Regions from separate parts of the Homo sapiens genome. Here regions 2, 3, 4 and 5 are each linked to region 1. The links come from fine-mapping of genetic effects on gene expression. A gene starts in region 1. Each other region holds a variant in brackets. All regions are shown on one strand. Distances are between the middles of the regions. Region 1 holds the start of JAKMIP3 (Janus kinase and microtubule interacting protein 3). Region 2 overlaps STK32C (serine/threonine kinase 32C). Region 3 overlaps DPYSL4 (dihydropyrimidinase like 4). Region 4 has its middle 14 kb from the start of PPP2R2D. Region 5 has its middle 25 kb from the start of JAKMIP3.

Evidence for each region. PIP is the estimated chance that this variant, and not a neighbour inherited with it, causes the effect. A credible set is the group of variants that fine-mapping cannot tell apart.
Region 2: its variant is the best candidate, but not a certain one, in a credible set for the expression of JAKMIP3 in whole blood (TOPMed, PIP 0.66).
Region 3: its variant is the best candidate, but not a certain one, in a credible set for the expression of JAKMIP3 in blood mononuclear cells (TOPMed, PIP 0.77).
Region 4: its variant is the best candidate, but not a certain one, in a credible set for the expression of JAKMIP3 in breast (GTEx, PIP 0.81).
Region 5: its variant is the best candidate, but not a certain one, in a credible set for the expression of JAKMIP3 in sun-exposed skin (GTEx, PIP 0.83).

What each region holds. Positions count from the first base shown.
Region 1 is chr10:132,063,666-132,067,779 of GRCh38, forward strand. JAKMIP3 (Janus kinase and microtubule interacting protein 3) reads left to right here and starts at 2,281. Exons shown (of 24, transcript NM_001323087.2): 1 at 2,281-2,396. RefSeq lists enhancers at 1,058-1,805, 4,080-4,114.
Region 2 is chr10:132,206,191-132,210,304 of GRCh38, forward strand. STK32C (serine/threonine kinase 32C) reads right to left here. Exons shown (of 12, transcript NM_173575.4): 11 at 2,844-2,911; 12 at 1,302-1,961. The coding sequence ends at 1,820. Among named protein-coding and RNA genes, the nearest start is that of DPYSL4, 21 kb to the left of the region's middle. The variant G/A (reference allele first, on the strand shown) is at 2,046.
Region 3 is chr10:132,198,914-132,203,027 of GRCh38, forward strand. DPYSL4 (dihydropyrimidinase like 4) reads left to right here. Exons shown (of 14, transcript NM_006426.3): 8 at 1-58; 9 at 1,443-1,599; 10 at 1,929-2,070; 11 at 3,033-3,203; 12 at 3,733-3,912. Among named protein-coding and RNA genes, the nearest start is that of DPYSL4, 14 kb to the left of the region's middle. The variant C/T (reference allele first, on the strand shown) is at 2,399.
Region 4 is chr10:131,884,684-131,888,797 of GRCh38, forward strand. No RefSeq gene overlaps it. Among named protein-coding and RNA genes, the nearest start is that of PPP2R2D, 14 kb to the right of the region's middle. The variant T/C (reference allele first, on the strand shown) is at 2,403.
Region 5 is chr10:132,039,020-132,043,133 of GRCh38, forward strand. It overlaps a transcript of JAKMIP3 not described here. Among named protein-coding and RNA genes, the nearest start is that of JAKMIP3, 25 kb to the right of the region's middle. RefSeq lists an enhancer at 67-904. The variant T/C (reference allele first, on the strand shown) is at 2,360.

The DNA.
Region 1 (4,114 bases):
ACCGTCTGCAAGGGGCACGTTTACTGCAGGAATCAAAAGCACATACACGCATGTGCATCTGTTTGGAAATGAAAGTAGATGTTTTTTCTGATTCTAAAAATATTGTTTCCAATTCTACAAAAAAAATACATACAATTCAGAAAGATACAAAACAAAATATCAAGTCACCTGAGATCCTATCACCTGGAGCTATGGCCACTTTAGAGCTTGGTATCTACGCTTTCAGGCTTTGTTTTTCTTGAGTGCAACACACACAGGCACGCGTTTTTAAAAACAAATAATGTGATCATACTATACACACTTTTTTAAACAGAAATGTGAGCATACGATACCAGCTTTTTTATGGCTGACTTTAAAAAACTTAAACAATAGGTTGTTTACGTCTTTCTGTTAAGCTTGGACTGGGGACATTTTTAAATGGCCCCATTGTATTTGGACGTATGTGCGTTTCCCATCGCTTGTTAAATCACTCCTCTGTTGGACGTCTAGGATGTTTCCAATTATTCCCTGTTATATTATGGACAACACTGCCGTAAGCATCCCTGAGTGAGTTATATTTAAAGGCTTACAACAGCGCCTGGCACGGGGTAGGTGCTATAAAGTATTTGGACTAAAGTCAAATCTGTGCACACACCATCCTTGTGTTGTTTCCCCAGGATCAATTCCAGCAGGAGGACAGCTGGGCTGAGGGGGCACTGCCCTCGTCAGGAAGGTTGTCCCCGTGGCCTGCCTCCGACTGAGGAGGAGCCACCCTCGGGGTCGGGCGTGGACCCCGAGCCGCCGGCATGGGAACCCTCTTTGCTTCAGGGCAACACGGGAGGGGTCTGGATCTCCGACCCACCGTTCCGGGTCTGAATCCAGCTCCGGGACCTGACAGGGATGTGATTGTGGGGCAGCCGCATGGCCTCTTGGCGCTCCAGCCTCCTCCCCTGTGACATAGAGGCAGCGATGGTTGGTAACCAGGGACAGCGGGCGGCTCCGTCACACGAGTCAGGACATGTGACCCTTGGAGGGTTGTTGCATCACCCTGGACGTTTGGCCAGACGTGTGGCCATGGTTTTAATCAGGACAATTTTTTGCTTGCTCTAACTTATGAGGGTGGCCAGATCTAGACAGACAGCAGAAGTAACCCGAAGTCCTGGCCTGCCCTGTGCCATCCTCTGACATGTTATCATCGGCGTTCACTCTGTGGGCTCCTCTCGGGGTGATGCCTGCCGGTCTCAGCTTTGGGGTGAAGTGACATTTGGCCTTGACTAGAAGAGGCAGGTTGTGGGGGGCAGGCAGGGTGCAGGCGAGGGAACTGAGGCAGAGCGGGCTGGGAGCAGGGGGGATGTAGGGTCCTCCCAGGCTGACCCCCAGAACCTGGGCGTGCAGGCCTGCTCTGGGGTCCAGGCTCCGATGCAGTCTCAGCGCAGGCCCTGGTGGCCGGAGACAGGGCAGGGCAGGAGCTTCAGGCCACCCGCACCGGCAGCCCTCAAGGCTGCCTTGATGGAATCGGACCCAGATGGACTCTAAGCGGCCTCCTGCTTGGAAACCCTGTCAGACCCTGCGTTTTCTACAGAGCGGCTGTCACACGGCTTTTCCGGACGGTGATTATGGACTGCGTGTGGGATTGGCGGGCCAGGTGAGCTCTCGTGCTTGCCCTTCACACAGGAATGCTGCTGGTCTCCTGTGTCTGGTTCCCGTCTGCATTTTCAGTCCTCAGTGTTGAGTGTGTGCAAATCCCTTCTATCACCTGACATTTAAAATAGATACCCTCAGAGTGGAAGTTCGTTCCTATTATTGACCCGCTCACTCTGCAATCTTGAAGGGGGTTCTCCAAGCAGGAGGGAAAGCCGGCCAGAACGCGGTCCTGGAGCAGCCAGGAAGCCGAGGGGGCGGTGAGGGCAGGGATGGCCCAGCCGTGGCCTCTGCCGCTCGCTGGTTTTCACGTGAGACTGCCGCCGGGCCAACCCGGAGCCCAGGCCGCCTCTGCATCTGAATAGAGCCAAGCTGCCTTCAGGATCTCACCTGCGTGGCTGTGCCTTCGGCCGCCCGGCCGTGCAGAGCTGCGGGCCCCTTCCCCACCGAGAAGCGTCTGTTCGCGCCCTGCAGGGAGCTGGGCTGGGGGCTCAGAGGATGCCTCTGTGCTTGGCCTTAAGGTGCACAGGGAGAGCTTGGGCGATCCTGGCTCAAGGGCTCTGCTTGGAAACAGCTCGGGGAAATGGTTCCTCCCCCTGGATGTAGTCACAGCGTGGTAAATTCCATCTGAAAAATAAAAGCCGAGCTCTTTGCTGAGTCATAGAAGCTCGGAGCTGATTTGCGCAAAAGCCGGACTGAGTCTTGGACGAGCCGGGAAAGATTCTCACAGTCGAGCAGAGCGATGGGAGAGAGGAGCAGACAGCGAGCTTTGGAATGTGAGTGTTTATTTTCTGACTGCTGCAGAGGCTTTGTTGGTTTCGGTTTGGCTGTCTCTGCACAGGCTCTTTCCACCTGGTGCTCTTCTGTATTTAGTGCGCACACGTATGTGGCTGGAAAGTTGACAGTTTGGGGTCTGTCCTCTGAGGGGTGCAGGGACGATCACAGAGGAAGATGCTTCATTTATCCGTTTTCACGTTCATGCTCATGCACACATTTGGAGGAGGCTTGGGCCTGCGTTCCCAGTAGTAGGTTTCTCCTTTAAAGCATGGGTGTGTGTTCCATCCCATATGTAAAGCGGATGCTTGTTGGCACGGCAGCCGTGGTGGGGTGGGTTGGGGAAGCCAGGCTGAGTCTGTGTATTGCCGGCTGTGGTGAGAATCCCACGGACATAGCACCAGAGAGCTGTCTGCACAGCCCGGGAGGCCTGCGGCGTCCGGGTGCTTCCTGGCTCCGTGGGGTAACCGGCTGGACTTTTTTGCTGCTTGTTTTCCTTTTGAAGAATAGGTCATCTTTATGGCTTGAGGCCTCACCACCTACCTGCGCATTGATTGGATGGTGTCTTCTCTTTAAAACTTAATCAAGAATCACACATCACTCATTGATATAACTTCTTATGCAAGGAACTCCAGGTTTTTGGGAAACAACAGCTTATTAACTTACTAATTCACTCTTTGAGGTTATTGCACCATGCCTCAGTTTCTACAGTTGTTCAAAGAAAATCCACTGCTGATTGGGACTGGCAGGGCTGCGGTGGAAAGGGTGTCACAGGTAACTTGGCAGTACGTTGTTGTACTGATGCTTATTGAGATGTCAGTGAGACTGGCCGGGAAACCATGCAGGCACCCTAGGGATGTAAATACTTGCTGCTGCCGTTGATTTTGTTGTTCACAGTGTGGGAGAACCAGTCACAAAACGGTTTTCTCATTCCAAGCCAAGCCTGGAGTAGTAGACTTGAGAGTCCTCTCAGTGGATCGGGCCTTTGAGCAGGTCCGTGGTAAAACGCCACCTCAGTTCCCGAGAAGAGCAGCAGAAGAGGAAAGTGAGCCGGGCCGAGGAAGGACCCTCAGTTTACATTCACAGCATTACCGGCAAAAGGCTGGCGTTTGGATGAGGTTCCCTAAGAGTCCCACAGAGTAGATCAATATGATCAATATGTGCTTGGAGAAGACAAGACGCCTGGCACATTCACATTCCTTCTCCAAGGCTGAGGGTGGGGGGAGGGCATTGGCATTCCTGCTATTCCCGAGGTTTCCCTGCCTCTCCTGTGAGTTGAGGGCACCCCTGTGAAACCTAAGGGCACGCTGTGGCAGAGAACATGCACGGAGCTCCTGCTTCTCTCCCGACAGCCCTGGGAAGGCCTTACTACTTTAGGTCCTAACTAACAATATCCAAACGACCAGGTGGTGGTCCCACAGCAAGGGAGCTGTCAGTCAGAGCTGTGCCTCTGCCCCCGTATTTTGGATCGAGCTCCTCCAAGAGAAGTAAGTGTCCTATACATGTTCTTGGAAGGTTGATCTTGACTGTGGACTTCCGTGTGGACTGTGGGCTTCCGTGTGTACTGTGGGCTTCCGTGTGGACTCTGGGCTTCCGTGTGGACTGGACTGTGGGCTTCCATGTGGACTGTGGGCTTCCGTGTGGACTGTGGGCTTCCGTGTGGACTCTGGGCTTCCATGTGGACTGGACTGTGGGCTTCCGTGTGGACTCTGGGCTTCCG
Region 2 (4,114 bases), 140 kb after region 1:
GTGTCTCAAAGGGTGCGTGGACGTTCCCAGACGGTTGTCCTCATCCCAAGAGCGGGGCCTGGTCGCAGTCACTGGGCACTCGCTGTTTGTTGAGCAGAGAGCCAGGGACACCTTGTGCCACCGGTTCTCTGGCCCCTGCCCATGCACCGATGGTGACAGAGAATTTCCTGCCGTGGTCTCTGGGAACCACAGACAGGCCCATCTCTCACCCTGGGCTGCTTATAAAGCTGTGCAGATCCCAGGCGAAGGCCCTGGGCCCTCAGCATTTCCTTCCCGGGGCTCCCTCTGGCCCAGATGTGGGAGCTGATGTCCCCCACACCAGCATCTCCCACTCTGCCCCAGTGTGGGGGGCGATCAAGGGAACCAGACAGCACCCACACCTCACCAGTGTCTCGAAGGAGGACAAGGTGCACCACCCTGCCATGTTCCCCAAATGCACTTATTCAAACCCCCACACCTGTCCTTGCCCCGAGCCTGTCTCTGACATCGCCAGACTTCCACCGAGTACACGGCGCCTCTGGGCCCTCGCAGAGACCGGGCCACCCTTCCTGGTGGTGATTTGGGTGCCGTGTCCCCCATGTGAGCTGCTGAGGGCTGGAAGGCTAGTTTCTGCCATGATTCAGAGGACAGGGGTGGGTGGGGGACGGGAAGCTGCATTCTATCCCCTCGGACTTCTGACTCTGCTCGTGGCATGGCCGGTTCTTCCCCAAATGTTCTTTGGCCGTTGTCATCTCCATCTCGCAGCCCAGCCAAGGACGGGAGGGCCCTGTTTGCCAGGGGTGCAGTGGGGCTCATGGACACAGGTCTAGGCACATGTCCACTATGGCCGCTGTCCTGGGAAGGGGCACAGACCCGCCACACCCATTTCCTCAGAGGAAACCAGCACAGGCCTGTCTGGAGCGCTGGGCTGATGGGCTGAGCCCGTCCTCCTCCAGCGAGACCAGAGAGAAGCACACAGGCCGTTTACCCAGTTAGTTACAGTTCCAACCACAGAACCACCCAGCCACAGTGAGAGGGATACGTCCCTTTATGGAGGGCCAAGCACTGCCCGGCACTGCGGTGGCTCCACGGTGCACGGTGCTGTCCTGGGCTCCTCTGCCTCCAGGACCGTCTCTGCCTTCCACAGCCTTACGGCTCCAGGGCCACGGAGACAGGCACCCACCCCAAAGCCATGGTCCGGGAGCTCTGCCCTGAGGAGCTGCCCACCCCACTGGCTGCCCCAAGTCCAGGCCAACCAGAAACGGCAGGCACCGGCCTGACGGCCAGGCAGACACAGGACGTACGCAGAACATGCAACATCGAGCGGTTCTCACATTGTAATTCTCAGAGGTGAAAACTACAGAAATTGCTGGAGCAGTTTGAATCTCTAGAAAACATTCACCTCCCCACCCACTACCCCAACCCATGCCCTTGACCTCCAAGACCTGAGCCGAGCCTGGGGCACCCGCGGCCTGTGCTGCAAGGGTCACCTTGTGACGAGGGCCGTGCACAGCCTCCGGGCTGAGCAGGGACAAAGACTCCTGTCCCATCCATGGCCCCAGCTCCCCGTGAGCGGTAAGAGGGCGCCCAGCAGCGCTTCCTCCATCTAGGCGGGTCTCGGGGGCCCACGGGAAATGCCCTCCACAGGTGTCCCCTGCACCCACAGCCTCTTGTCCCCTGCACCACCACGAGCCTGAGGTGTGAAATGTGTCCGGGGCACTGTGGGCACCGCCAGCCAGGCTGGGTGGGAACGTGAATGCCAGGCCTCGGCCCATGGCCCTCCCTCTGGCAGCCGAGTCTCCAAAGCAGCTCAAGGGGTGAGGACCACGGGCGTCCCGGCCTAGCCGCTCCCGGCCGAGGGGCAAATGGGGCCGCACATGGGCAGGGCGGAGCGTTCCGCCTCGTCCTCCACAGGCTCCGCAGCATCCCTGGACTCAGGGGCGGGGAGAGGCTCCCTCGGGAGGTCCTGGCTCCTCTTCAGCCTGGGGTGGCAGGAACACATGGAGGGCGTTATGCCCCCACCTCCCTGGCCTCACGGTCCCATGACCTGCCCACGGGCTCATGGG[G/A]TAGGCCATGGCGTGGATGCCCAAACGTGGGCCACAGGCTCGGTGTCTGCTGGAGAGGCCATGCTCCCGATACACTGGCAGGGAGCCTGGGGACGGGTGGGGGCACGTGAGCATGCTGGCGAGGCTCGGCGTGTTTCCAGCCAGAAGCCGAAAGGCCTGACTGTGCAGGTGCCATAGGTCAGTGACTTGGGAATGAGGCTCGGCTAAGCCTCATTCTTCACCCGGTCATCTGATCCCCAGGGTGCCAGTCAGTGCCCTCAGCCGTCTGCACGTGCTGCCCTGCACGTCCTGTCCATAAGAGCTCAGACCCACCTCCTCCAGGAGGCCCTCCTTGCCCCGTGCGGGCAGAGGGAGCATCCATCCTCCCTTGGGCCCCACCGTGGCAGCTGCTGCTATTTCTGGCCTGCCTTGCCTGCTGCCAGTCATCTGTGCCCTTTCTGTCCCCTGGGGCCTGACATTCAGGAAAGGTCTGCTGAGAGACTGAGGGCGTGCCTGGGTGGGGGAGTTGACGTGGCTCTGATGGGGCCTCCTAGGAAGTCACCACCCCTCATCTGGGCAAATGATGTGTCTCTCCCCAGAAGATTCCAGCCACGGGCCCCGCGTGGAGCACAAACATGCCAGAGCCTGGCAGGGGCCTCCCGCCGCTCCCCTCCATAGCTGCTGCTCAGAGTCCCCAAAGAGAGCAGGGCCACGCACCCCAGGCCCACAGGTGCCCGCTCACGTGGCCAAGAAAACCTTAACCTTAGCCCCATTTTCCTCCTCTCTGCCACCACGCCCACCCACCCCCAACACACTCACTTTTCTCTGTTAAAAATCACGAAGTCTTGCTGGATGGCATCGAGGCAGTCTTGAAGATAGTCATTCTCCTGTGGATGGAAAGGCACACGTGAGCGTGGGGGACGCTGTCCAGGTTCCGCCCATGTCCCCTCAAGTGAGTGTCTGGGCATCCCCATCGGGCCTCCACCTGTGGCTTTGGATGACGGCCTCTGGGCTATTGAAGTGCCCCGGCCCTCCAGCAGCCAGACTGCCCGGGAGCTCGCATCTCTGCGGGTGACTCACCCAAGCCCGAGGATGCCAAGGCCCAGCTCCCTTGCCTCTGGGTGGATGGCTTGGACTTGCTCCGTGGGGCCTGCAGGACCAGGCAGAAGCTGTTCTCTGCGGGACTTTGCTGGAAACCACTCCCTTGCCGGGCCTTTCCCGTCTCATACCGGGTTCTCCCAGCCCCTCATCACAGCACACACACACCTGTCCCAGGCCTGCTTCTGGGGCCCTGCCCAGAGAATCCTGGAACCAGGGCTGTCTTAGAAGCAGGTCCTCAGGGCAAGCTTGTGGACGGAGGCTGCCCCTGGCAGGACCCACCCTTACTGGTGTGTGATGGGCAGGCAGGACTACTTCCTTCAGGCAGCAGGACCACTTCCCAGGACGCAGGGGTCGGGGGAGGGCGTGGGTGGGGTGGAGGGGGTGCTGGCCGCTCAGCGCTGGCATGGTGTGGGGAAAGCATCATTATGGTGACCGTGAACTTGGATGGTGACGTTGGTCACTACCAACGCGTGAGCAAATGACAGACCCAGATGAGCCAAGTCACAGTGAAAAGTGCAGGGAGTCGCAGGCCTCGGGTGGCATTAAAAGGGCCCCCACCTCCTGCAGCTGAGGCCAGAGGATGCCCACTTGTGAGGACCACAGAACCTCAGATCCATAGGAAGTCACCCACGTCACAGCCAAGGCCCTGGGAGGGAGGGAGCTGGGCTCTGAAGGTCGGAGGGGACGTGTGAGTGGGTACACACCAGAACGCTCAACCCTATCTAGACATACAAAACGTACAGCAAAACCCAGTGTTACCATCTTACGGGACCACCCCCCCATGCGATTGGCCAGTGACGGAAGCATCGTTATGCAATGCGTGACAACAGTCTGCGTTCACCCGAGACGGACAACAGCATGCTTTCACGGCCCCAGCCAGGGCTAAGGGGACTCTTCCCTGTCACAGTGTCGTCTGTGCCTCGAACACCTGGACACTCTTGCCTGCTATCCATGGATCCTATTTTTGGTCTCGCTCTGTCACCCAGACT
Region 3 (4,114 bases), 140 kb after region 1:
GTCACCAAGGTGATGAGCAAGGGGGCGGCCGACGCCATCGCTCAGGCCAAGCGCAGAGGTGAGCACCCAGCCCCGCCTCTGATGCCGAGGGGCCATGGTCTCGGCCTCCTGGGTGCAGCCCTGGGGAGATGCAGGTTCCCTGAGTCCCTGCATCGGGGCGGGGCACTGGACCCTGAGTCCCTGCATCGGGGTGGGGCACTGGACCCTGAGTCCCTGCATCGGGGCAGGGGCTGGACCTGAGTTTCCAGCCTTGCTGGAGCAGCAGCTGCTCACCAGGGGCCCTGAGGCAAAACATGGGGACGCTCATCCCATTTCCAGTGGGGGTGGGTGTGGGGAGAATGGAATGATGAGGAGGGTCTCCAAGAGAGAATTCCAGTTCCAACAAGGAGGCCCTCCCTACATTGCTATTTGCTGTGTCCAGAGCCGGGGTGCTACCTGCCCACAGAATGCCAGCCAGCTGGAGCCTGGCACTGCAGAGAGCCTCAGGCCTGGGCGGGGGGGTGCCACCCAGAGCTGTGATTGGCAGCGGCTTGACTGTGGTGTCCCCCAGAGGCTACTGGGCTCAGAGGGTCCATGGAGCCCCAGCAATCACTGGGGCTGGAGAGGGCCAAGGATCCAGGCACAGAACCCAGGTGACGGGTAAATGAGGGGGCATCCCCTAGGCGGCCTCTGGATCTGGTCTGGTTTCCCCTCCTCCTGCTGTCCGCACTGAGTCCTGAGAGACCTCGTTTTCTGGGCCTGCCTGGGGCTGTGCAGGTCCCTGGGCAGGGTGGGGGGCGGGGTGGTGGTGGTGGTGGGTGGTGCCCTTCTATGTGTTTCCTGCATCGAGGGTTGAAACTGAAACCCACTCAGTTAACTGGGAAAAGGACTCTGAGGCGTGCAGGTGAATGGGGGTCTGCAGGGGTGAGGCCCGGGCCTCACTCAGGACACCAAGCAGCCTCGGGGCAGCAGGCCAGGCCCTTCTCAGGGGTACCCCACCCGCCAGGCTCTTCTCGGGGGGTGCCCCACCCCACCTGGGAGCATTTCTCCCCCACCCACTGGTGGGAGCTGCCTCAGCTGTGAGCTGGAACCCTGGTGAGGCCATGGCCAGGGCACCCCCGGCCAGTCAGCCGCCATGCAGTTCACTGTGCCTCGCAGCCCACAGGCACGCCCTGGCCCCGCTGGAGTGCCCGGGGTCCTGGGGTGGGGTGTGGGCAGAGAGAGGACTTGGCGTCCGCAGGCCAGACTCCCTTTCCCAGAAGGACCCCCAGGGCCAACCACGTCTGCCCGCGACCCAGGCCTCTGCCCCACTTCCTGCCCAGGGCCAGGGACTCTAGACTGGGCACAAGCTGTCCCAGGCAAGGAAAGTGAGGGGCAGTCGTGGGTGTCAGCAGCAGCAGTTCTCGGGGCCCCAGGGGGTGCAGGTGGTCGGTGGGGCACCTCTCATGGGCCTCGTGCTGCAGGGGTGGTCGTGTTTGGGGAGCCCATCACCGCCAGCCTGGGCACCGACGGTTCACACTACTGGAGCAAGAACTGGGCCAAGGCCGCAGCCTTCGTCACATCACCCCCTGTCAACCCAGACCCCACCACGGCGGACCACCTCACCTGCTTGCTGTCCAGGTAAGCAGCCTCTCCAGGTGGCCCCAGGTTGGCCGCCCGCTGCACACCCTGCCAAGGCTGTGGCCCCGACACCCCAGGCCTCTCCCACGGCTCCCATAGGGCAGCCCGGACAGTGGCGGGTGGGGAAGTCTGAGCCCTTTGGTCCCAGCGGGGGCTCCCCTGGCAGGAACCAGTCCCCGCTCCCCTGCACAGAGGCACCAGCTCTGCCCAGCGAGAGCCACTCAGATGACCTCTAGCCCCTGCGGCTGTGCTGGCCAAGGGGGCTGGAGCTGACCTGGCCTCTGCCGGCTCAGGAAGGCCAGGACCCTCTGACCCTGGCTTGTTTCCAGCGGGGACCTCCAGGTGACAGGCAGCGCCCACTGCACCTTCACCACTGCCCAGAAGGCTGTGGGCAAGGACAACTTCGCGCTGATCCCCGAGGGCACCAACGGCATTGAGGAGCGCATGTCGATGGTCTGGGAGAAATGTGTGGTGAGCACAGGCCTGGCCGGGGCACGCCGTCTGGGGAGCGGCTGTGGGCGGGATTGTGATGGCTGGTCAGAAGGGAGCCCATCTAACCAGTGCACACTCGTGAAACAGATCAGAGCACACGGGCTCCGGGGTGGCGGATTCCCCACCCAGGGCGCCTCAGACACGTGGTTCTGGCCCCTCCAGATGAGACTCCAACAGCAACAGGGGCAGCTGGTAGCCCCCCACCCCTCAGCAGACTCTAGTGTTGCCCGGACACTGTGTTTGCCCAGGGGTCAGCATGGGGTCTCCACGCTGTGATGTTAGTGCTCCCCCGCGATGCCCTCACGAC[C/T]CGTCGCACACCGCCCTGTCCTGCGCCCTCCCGCATCCTCAGCCCCACCTCCCCGGGCAACTGAGCTCTTCCCCTCAGCTGCTCCTGCCTTCCCAGCCTCCAGGGCTCCCCAAGGAGACTGTCACGTCCTTCAGGGGACACAGGTGTTGCCACTGAAGCTCCACTCTCGCTGAACCTTCGTGGAAGCTTTACCCACAAAGTGAATGCAGAAAGGCTTCGCCCAGGAAGGGGCAGACCAGCAGGCATCACTGAGATGGGCTCCCTGACTCACCAGTGCAGCGTTCTTACCCCAGGGGTTACTCAGGCGTTCTTACCCTGAGTGTTGCCATGGCGAGGGCCGTGGCTGGAGCCCTGTCCTGATCTTGGCTGCCTGGGTGGCACTCTAGTGCCCGTCTTCACGGGGGCCTGGTATCCGTCTTTGTGGGGTCCCAGCGGTCCAGCATCTGACCTGGCAGGGGCCCCGTGTCCTGCCGTCCAACCTTGTGGGGGGCCTGGTGGTCCAGCGTCTGTCCTCACGGGGGCCTGGTGACCTGGCATCCATCCTTGTGGGGTCCTGGTGGCCCAGTGTCTGTCCTCGCGCAAGCCTCACCCCAACCCCACCCGTCGCCCTCAGCTCAGCCTTCTTGTTCCCCAGGCCTCTGGGAAGATGGACGAGAATGAGTTCGTCGCGGTGACCAGTACAAATGCTGCCAAAATCTTCAATTTTTACCCAAGGAAGGGGCGAGTGGCTGTGGGCTCTGACGCTGACCTGGTCATATGGAACCCCAAGGCCACCAAGATCATCTCTGCCAAGACCCACAATCTGGTAAGAGAAGGCGGCTGTAAGTCAGGGTTGGCCTTTGTGGGGCCGGGACCCCAGGGCAGCCTTCCCAGGAGAGGCGCAGGACAGAGGCCCACGTGGCAGCAGCAGTGGCCTCAGCCATCCCAGGGCCGTCCACACAGCCTGTCCCAGGCCAGACACTGAAATGGGCCCTGTCCACGTCACCTCGCTGCGTGGCCGCTGCATCTGTGGTCCCCTTGTGCCATGGAGGAGGCTGGGGCAGAGCGGTGCCGTGTGCACCTGCCTAGCCAAGGGAGAAGTGACCCTCCCTGCCTGCCCACGCCTGTCCCCTTTGTCCTCGAGAGAAACGGGACTCAGAAACGAGGTCCGTAGGCCGAGGGGGGGCATTCCTCCCGAGTTCCAACCCCTCAGTTCCAGCATCTTGCTAGGGGCTCAGTGTAGGCACACCGGGCCTGCTCCACGCTGGGCGGCCACAGTGCTCCAGCGGCTCAACGGGGATGGGACTGTTGGGCCCCAGCGTGGAGGCACTGGACCCTCGGGCCTCTCTCCCCAGAACGTGGAGTACAACATCTTCGAGGGAGTGGAGTGCCGGGGAGCGCCTGCCGTGGTCATAAGTCAGGGCCGAGTGGCGCTGGAGGACGGGAAGATGTTTGTCACCCCGGGGGCGGGCCGCTTCGTCCCTCGGAAAACATTCCCGGACTTTGTCTACAAGAGGATCAAAGCTCGCAACAGGGTAGGGCGGCACCCGCAAGGGTGTTGTGCAGGTAGGCAGGTGGGCGCTGAGTTCTAGGCCCAGAACGCACCCCTGGTCAACCTGGCCCGGCCTCCCGAGGGGTCAGGAAGACAGAGCGGGGCCGCTGCTTGCCCAGGGCCCTGGTGGGTCTAAGTGGAGAAGAGCCTGCTCCCGGAAGATGGCAGGGGAGGCCCCCATGGCA
Region 4 (4,114 bases), 180 kb before region 1:
CACGGACACCTGCTGGAGAGGGACAGACACCTGCTGGGGAGGGACAGACACCTGCTGGGGAGGGACGGACACCTGCTGGGGGGACACAGATACCTGCTGGGGAGGGACAGACACCTGCTGGAGAGGGACAGACACCTGCTGGGGAGGGACAGACACCTGCTAGGGAGGGACGGACACCTGCTGGGGGGGACACAGACACCTGCTGGAGAGGGACAGACACCTGCTGGGGAGGGACAGACACCTGCTGGGGAGGGACGGACACCTGCTGGGGGGACACAGACACCTGCTGGGGAGGGACAGACACCTGCTGGAGAGGGACAGACACCTGCTGGGGAGGGACGGACACCTGCTGGGGGAACACAGACACCTGCTGGGGAGGGACAGACACCTGCTGGGGAGGGACAGACACCTGCTGGGGAGGGATGGACACCTGCTGGGGAGGGACGGACACCTGCTGGGGAGGGACGGACACCTGCTGGGGGGACACAGACACCTGCTGGGGAGGGACAGACACCTGCTGAGGAGGGACAGACACCTGCTGGGGAGGGACGGACACCTGCTGGGGGGGACACAGACACCTGCTGCGGCCCACGCCAGAGCCAGGGTTTCTGGACTTGGTGTTTCCACGCAGGCGCCTGCGCCACACATCCAGGCAGCCTCCGCGCCCTGCCCCAAGTCCCTGGGTGTCCACATGGTCAGCACGGGCAGGAGCGCGGGCCTCGGCCCGGGTGCGCTTTCCATTCCCGAGGTCGTTTGTAGGAACTGGGGTGATGCCGCCTCCCGCTGGGGCTAAACCTGCCAGACTGGAAGGAAAGTCTGCGCTGAGGGGCTGCTCACACTCGGCCAGCAGGAGGCAGCAGAGGGCAGCCGCGCCCTGGCTGGGAGGCGCCCAGGGCCGGAGGGTTGCGCTCTGCAGGGTGTGTATCTGCAGGCCTGGGCTCAGCTGGCAGGATTGCGGGTCTGCAGTGTTTCTCAGGTTGTTTGTACTTCGACAGTAAGAGCTGGGCCCAGAAAATGATTTCCCAGCTCTGCAAAGATTCACAGTAAGAGCATTTCACAGGTAGGAAGCACGTCACCAGTGTTCAGAGAGCTTTCATTTATTTTCTTTTGGCCTCATAACTCTTTATGGCAGGTAGGTCAGCAGAGCAAGAACTGTGACTTATCAAGGATGAGCAAACAAACCCGGAGAGGCTGGAAATGCACGCGGGGTCCTCGAATTAAAGCTGGGCTGGGAATACCATGACTTAGATTCCCAGTGCCCAGCCCCAGCCTGGCCAGGAGGGTGGTGGCCCTGCCCCAGCTCCACCCAGCTATCTGTCCACCCTGCTTCTGGTGGGCCGCCTGGGGCCAATGCATCTCCAGTTATACTCCCATCCACCGTGATCCCAAGGAGCCAGGGTCTTGGTCTTACACCCCCAGGCTCATGGACACTCACTGAGGCTTATTTTTAGAGCTCAGAGGACTTGAAGTGCTCCCTGAACCAGCATGCGTGGGTCAAGTTGGAAAGGGCACATTCTAGAATTTCTTGTTTTCAGTTGGTTTTATAACGCCTTTTGTTTGAATGTATTGACAGAAGACTCAGTACCGGACCCCTGAGAATGAGTCACCCCTCTTAATGGTGTACTGCCCTGTCAGTGGCACGTCTCAGGAGGTGACCCACTCGGCAGACAGCAAAGTGCTGAGTGCCATGATGGTTTCCCAGGGAGAAGGCGGATCCGAGCCGGTGGCGGGAGAAGGGAAGAGACAAAGGCCCACGCTGCGTCTTCTGGGAGTGGAGGAGCCTTTCTTTCTGGAGCAAGCAGAAAGTCATCTTATCAGTCAACTTGGCACTTCCTCCCATGAGAACGTGAGAAGATTCACATGGTTAAGGGGACTTTGATGTACAGAGATCTTGTTTCACTGCACAGGATTTTTAAGTTACTCAGATAAATGGGGGAAGACTTGACACTTATTGTGCATAATTTGAATTCAAATAGGCTCCCAGTGAAGGGAAATTACCAGACACTTCGAACAGAGTCTATGCCTTCCGTTCTGTGCCTTCTGCTGATATTTAGGCTCAGAACTGCCTTAGAGCTGCCTGATTTGTATAATCTAGAGAACAAAACCATGTTTTGGAATATCATAAAGCTGATATTTTTATTTTTGAAATGAAGTTATCCCCACCTGTGAATTATTTCTAAAACAAAAAAAAAAACAAAAACAAAACCTCTTAGGCTGGGCGTCATGGCTCACGCCTGTAATCCCAGTACTTTGGAAGGCCGAGGTGGGCAGATCTCTTGAGGGCAGGAGTTTAAGCCCAGCCTGGGCAACATGGTGAGACCCATCTCTACTAACAAGACAAAAATTAGCCGGGTGTGGTGGCACACACCTGTAATCCCAGCTATTCGGGAGGCTGAGACACA[T/C]GAATCGCTTGAGCCTGGGTGGCAGAGGTTGCAGTGAGCCAAGATCATGCCACTGCTCTCCAGCCTGGGCAACAGGGCCAGACTCTGTCTCAAAAATAAATAAATAAATAAAATGGATCATAGACCTGACTGCTTCTTGGCCTTTCAGCTATAATAAGTGTAAAATAGATCATAGACCTGTATGTGAAATGCAAAACAATAAAACTCCCCCAAGATTACATAGAAGAATATTTTAGTGACTTTTGATTTGGAGACGAGTTTTTAGATACAACACCAAAGGCATAAGCCATAAAAGAAAAATATGATAAGTTGGACTTCATTAAAATTAAATATTTCTGCTCCATGAAAGACATTGTTAAGAGAATGAAAAGATAAGCCACATACTGGAAAAGAACTGGCAAAACACATACCTTATAAAAGATTGTATCCAAAATATACAAAGAACTCTTAAAATGTAACCGTAAGAACACAAACAACCCAATTTTGAAATGGGCAACAGATCTGAACCTCACAAATGAAGATATACACATGGCAAATAAACATATGAAAAGATACTCAGCATCATACATAATTAAGTAATTGAAAATCAAAACAACAGGCCGGGTGCTGTGGCTCACACCTGTAATCCCAGCACTTTGGGAAGCCAAGGCGGGTGGATCACTTGAGGCCAGGAGTTCGAGATCAGCCTGGCCAACATGGTGTAACTCCATCTCCACTAAAAATACAAAAATTAGCTGTGCGTGGTGGCCTCCCACCTGTAATCCCAGCTACTTGGGAGGCTGAGGCAGGAGAATCACTTGAACCCCGGAGGTGGAGGTTGCAGTGGGCCAAGATCATGCCACTGCACTCCAACCTGGGAAACAGAGCAATACTCTGTCTCAAAAAAATAAAATAAAATAAAACAACAATGAGATACCACTGCATGCCTATTAGAATGGCTAAACTTTAAATTTGACAATATCAAATGTTAGTAAGGATGAAGAGCAACAGGAACTCTCATTAATTGCTGGTGGGGATGTAAAATAGTGCAGCCAATTTGAAAGACAGTTTGTCAGTTTCTTACAATGCTAAACACACTCTTACCATAGGATCCAGCACCCACACCCCTAGGAATTATTCCAGATGAGTTGGAAACATGTCCATGCAAAAACCTGAAATGAATGTTTATAGCAACTTCACTTACAATTGCCAAAAGTCGAAATTACGAAGGTGTCCTCCAAAAGGTGAATGGATCAAAAAACCGTGGTGCGTCATACAGTGGGATACTATTCAACAATAGAAACAATGAGTCATCAAGCTGTGAAAAGACCTGGAGGAGTCTTCAACGTCTATTACTAATTAAAAGAAGCCAATCTGGAATGGCCACAGGCTATATGAAGCCAACTACATGACATTCCAGGCAAAACTATAAAGACAATACAAAGAGCAATGGTTGCCAGGGGTTGTTGGGGGCAGGGAGGGACGAATGGGTGGAGCACAGGCTATTTTTAGGACAGTAAAATGATTTTTTTTTTTTGAGACAGGGTTTCATTCTGTCATCCAGGCTGGAGCACAGTAATGCAGTCATGGCTCACTGCAGCTTTGACCTCCCAGGCTCAAGCAATCCTCCCACCTCAGCCTCCTGGGTAGCTAAGAGGCTCAAGCAATCCTCCCACCTCAGCCTCCTGGGTAGCTAAGAGGCTCAAGCAATCCTCCCGCCTCAGCCTCCTGGG
Region 5 (4,114 bases), 25 kb before region 1:
AGGCTCAGGCCACATCAAGGAGCATGCAGTTCAGCAAGGGAGGAGGTACAGACATCGCCTAAAATCACCAGAACTAAGGAGTGTGGAGTTGCAAACTCAGCATTCGAACCTCTGTCTCATTTTTAAAAATATTTAAACATTTTTTTAATAGAGACAAGATCTTGGTATATTGCCCAAGCTGGTCTTGAACTCCTGATCTCAAGTGATCCTCCTGCCTTGGTCTCCCAGACTGCTGGGATTATGGGCATGAGCCACCGTGCCCAGCCAGGACCTATGTCTCTTAGCTGTGATTCAGGAACTTAGTCACCTCAGCTTGGGCCCGGATCCCACACCAGGCCCCCGTCTGCCCTGCCTTGCCCCCTCCGGTTTTGACATCCCCCCATACCTGCAACCCCCAAGCAGAACAGTCTCAGTCAGGCCACCCACCGTTTCCCAGTAAGGCCAAGGGCTAGACCCTTTCTCCCATGGCCCCTGGACAGCGTGGTCCCTGCAAGGCTGAGAGGCCTGGCCCTCTACACGTGCCAGGACTTCCTGCTGCATGTCACCTGCCTGTGGCTCACTGGCTTCCCTGGCAGAGGTCTCTTAGTACAGCAGCACATCTGTGCACTCCAGAGAGGCGACCCCCACTCCCTCCATAGCGCTGGGCTGTCAGACCAGTGAGGTCTGAAAATCTGGCTGGCCCCCGATTCCCTACAGCGGCATCCAGCAAAGGTCTTGAAGATGGGGGAAGCTTCATTTCTGGCCTCCTCTCTCGGCCTCCAGCCGCTGTATTGACTTGGCTCTTACAGCCTCTCTGGGTTGCCCCCACCTCCACGCCTCACGTGCTGGGGCGCCTCTGCAAGTCACGCTGTGTGTGGAGGTCTCACTGCTCCCCAAGTCTTTGCCATGACACTAAGCACTTGGGTTCCTTCACAAGCTCGTGCTTCTTTGTTTTGTTTATAAAAATTCTAAAATTTCAGAAGGCTGGGATGAAGACAATCAGTACTCATAACTAACACGTGCCCAGGTGACTGCTGTAAGTCATTAGGTGCTGCTGTGGACCAAATTGTGTCCCCCAAGTTCACAGGTTGCGCTCTGACCCCCAATGTAATGGTATTGGGGGGGTGGGCCCTTTGGGAGCTGACGGGGTGAGATGAGGTTATAGGGTGGGCCCCCAGGATGGGATGGGTGCCCTTACAAGAAGGGACATGGGATCGGGCTCTCTCCACAGGGCACAGAGGCAGCTCTGTAAGCCAGGAAGGACCCTCACCAGGAACCAAACCGGCCGGCTCCTTGGCCTCAGACTTCCAGCTCCAGAACTGCGAGAAATGTCTTGTTTAGGCTGCCTGGTCTGTGGCATATTGTGATGGGGATGAGCTGACCGAGACAGGGCCCTCCCCTCGCTCCGTATCTATACATCTGCTGGCTGCCTGCTGACCTCCTGACCGCTGATGGGTTTGCAGACTCCCCCAGCCACACACAGAGTTTGGATCATGCTATAATCATTTTATATCCTGCTTTTTAAAAATGTCATATTCATGAGCATTTTTTTACTATTCAATTGTTTCTTTAATCAGTTCCTTATAAAGTATTTTGGGTTGATTTTAATCCTTTACAATTGTGAACCACTCCCGATGAGCTTTTTTTTTTTTTCATTTTCATTTTTTTTTTATCGTGGTAGATAAGAACACTTAACATGAAATAAATCCTCTTAAATTTTAAGTGTACGACACTTAAAGTGTCAATGACCCTTGGTGGTTGGTGCAGGTTCAGCGCAGAATAGCAGATTTCTGGAGGTTATTCCTCTCACTTAACATTAACAGAAACTTTTCTCTGTTGAGAGCTCCCACTTCCTAGCCCTGGAAGCCTCCCTTCCAGTCTTTATTGTTGTGATTTGACTATTTTCAACACCTCATAGAACTGGAATCATGCAGTACTCGATTTTCTGTGCCTGGCTTATTTCACTTAGCATGGTGTCCTCAAGGTCCATCCAGGCTGCAAATGGCAGAAGCACCTGTGTCTCGCGGCTGAGCGGCATTCGTCAGATGTGCACACCACATTTTCTTTCTTTTTGAGATGGAGTCTTGCTGCCACCCAGGCTGGATGGAGTACAGTGGTGTGATCTCAGCTCACTGCAACCTCTGCCTCCTGGGGTCAAGCGACTCTCATGCCTCAGCCTCCCAAGTAGCTGGGACTACAAGTGTGTGCCACCATGTCCAGCTAATTGACACCACATTTTCTATAAACATTCATCACCTGTTTATTTTAAGGCTTTCCTGTGGATCAGACAAACTGGAGTGCATATGTTTCAGGGAGTGGAGAGCTGGCTGGGTCCGGGTGGGCTGGAGTGGGTGGTAGGTGCCAGTGGGAACAGCCAGGG[T/C]GGGGAACCCTGAGAGGAGGTGAGAGGATGAGGGCGGCTGTATGCAGGATCCCGGCAGCATGGGCTGTGTTCTGGGAGCTGCTGCCCCGGACGGGCACAGCGGTAAACACCAGGAGCCAGTGTGGCCCCTCTGCCGCGTGTCCCCACGCCCTAGGAGGTGCATCTTCTGGTGTTGGGAGTATGGGAGACTTGGCTGGGGCTGGGCCAGCAAGGCCGACACCCCCACTCCTTTCCTGCGGCTGGTGGCATCATTGAGCACCACGGTCAGGAAAGCTGGAAACATAGCACGCTGGCCCCGTGGCCCAGGCTGGGTGGGCATGTGAGCTGCTAAGAGAATTTCATCGTCCGTTATAGCTGGCCTGAACTGTCGCGTGGCCAGCCTGTGCCAGCAGACACCTGCTCTGCCTGGGATCCCACCTCAGGCCTCTTCCATGGCTGCTTGTGTTTCTTTTCTTTCTATCCTTTCTTTTCTTTCTTTTTTCTTTCTTTTCTTTTTTTTTTCTTTGAGAAAAAGTTTTGCTCTTGTTGCCCAGGCTGGAGTACAGTGGTGCCATCTCGGGTCACTGCACCCTCCACCTCCCAGGTTCAGGTGATTCTTGTGCCTCAGCCTCCCGAATAGCTGGGATTACAGGCATGTGCCACCACACCTGGCTAATTTTTGTATTTTTAATAGAGTGGGGGTTTCACCACATTGGCCAGGCTAGTCTTGAATCCTGACCTCAAGTGATCTGCCAGCCTCAGCTTCCCAAAGTGCTGGGATTTTAGGTGTGAGCCACCGTGCCCCGCTAGTTCACTTGCTCGCTCGCTCCTTCCTTCCTTCCTTCCTTCCTTCCTTCCTTCTTTCCTCCTCCTCCTTTCACAGGGTCTCTGTCACCCAGGCTGGAGTGCAGTGGCATGATCATGGCTCACTGCAGCCTCCACCTACTGGGCTCAAGTGATCCTCACACTTCAACCTCCTGATTAGCTGGGACTACAGGTTTGCACCACCACGCCTGGCTAATTTTTGTATTTTTGTAGAGACGGGTCTCTCTCTTGTCCATGCTGGTCTCGAACTCCTGGGCTCAAATGATCTGCCTGCCTCGATCTCCCAAAATGTTGGGATTCCAGGCGTGAGCCACGGCGCCTGCTGTGTTTCTCTTTTCATCTTCACTCCTCTTCATGGTGCGGCCACCCTGGATCACCTGGAGTTCCTCCCTCCCCATCCTGGCTGCAGGGATGAGTGCAGGCTCTCAGGAACCAGGGACTGCGTGGGGAGAGGGCTGGAGCCTGTGTCCTCTGATAGCCAGGCCATAGCATCCTGGAGCAGCTTTGGAGAGCCCGTCTGTTCCTTTCCTCTGGTTTTAGAGCTCTCTGCCATTGTAACTCACCCTGGATCATTAGGGTATTAGAAATAGTTAAGAAAACCAGGTGCTTGAAGAGCTGTTTTGTATCAGCTTTACTTGGCTGGTCCTATAAAAGGCTTTTCCTTTGGGAGCCCAGGGTGGGTGGATTGCTTGAATCTAAGAGTTCGAGACCAGCCTGGGCATCATGGCAAGACCCCATGTCTCAAAAAAAAAAAAACAAAAATTAGCGAGTTATGGTGGCACGTTCTTGAGGTTCCAGCTACTCGGGAGATTGAGGTGGGAGGACTACTTGAGCCCAGGAGACAGAGGTTGCAGTGAGCTGAGATCACACCACTGCACTCCAGCCTGGGCAACAGAGCAAGATCCTCTCTCAAAAACACAAAAGGCTTTTCCTGGTTGGGAAGCTTTGTAA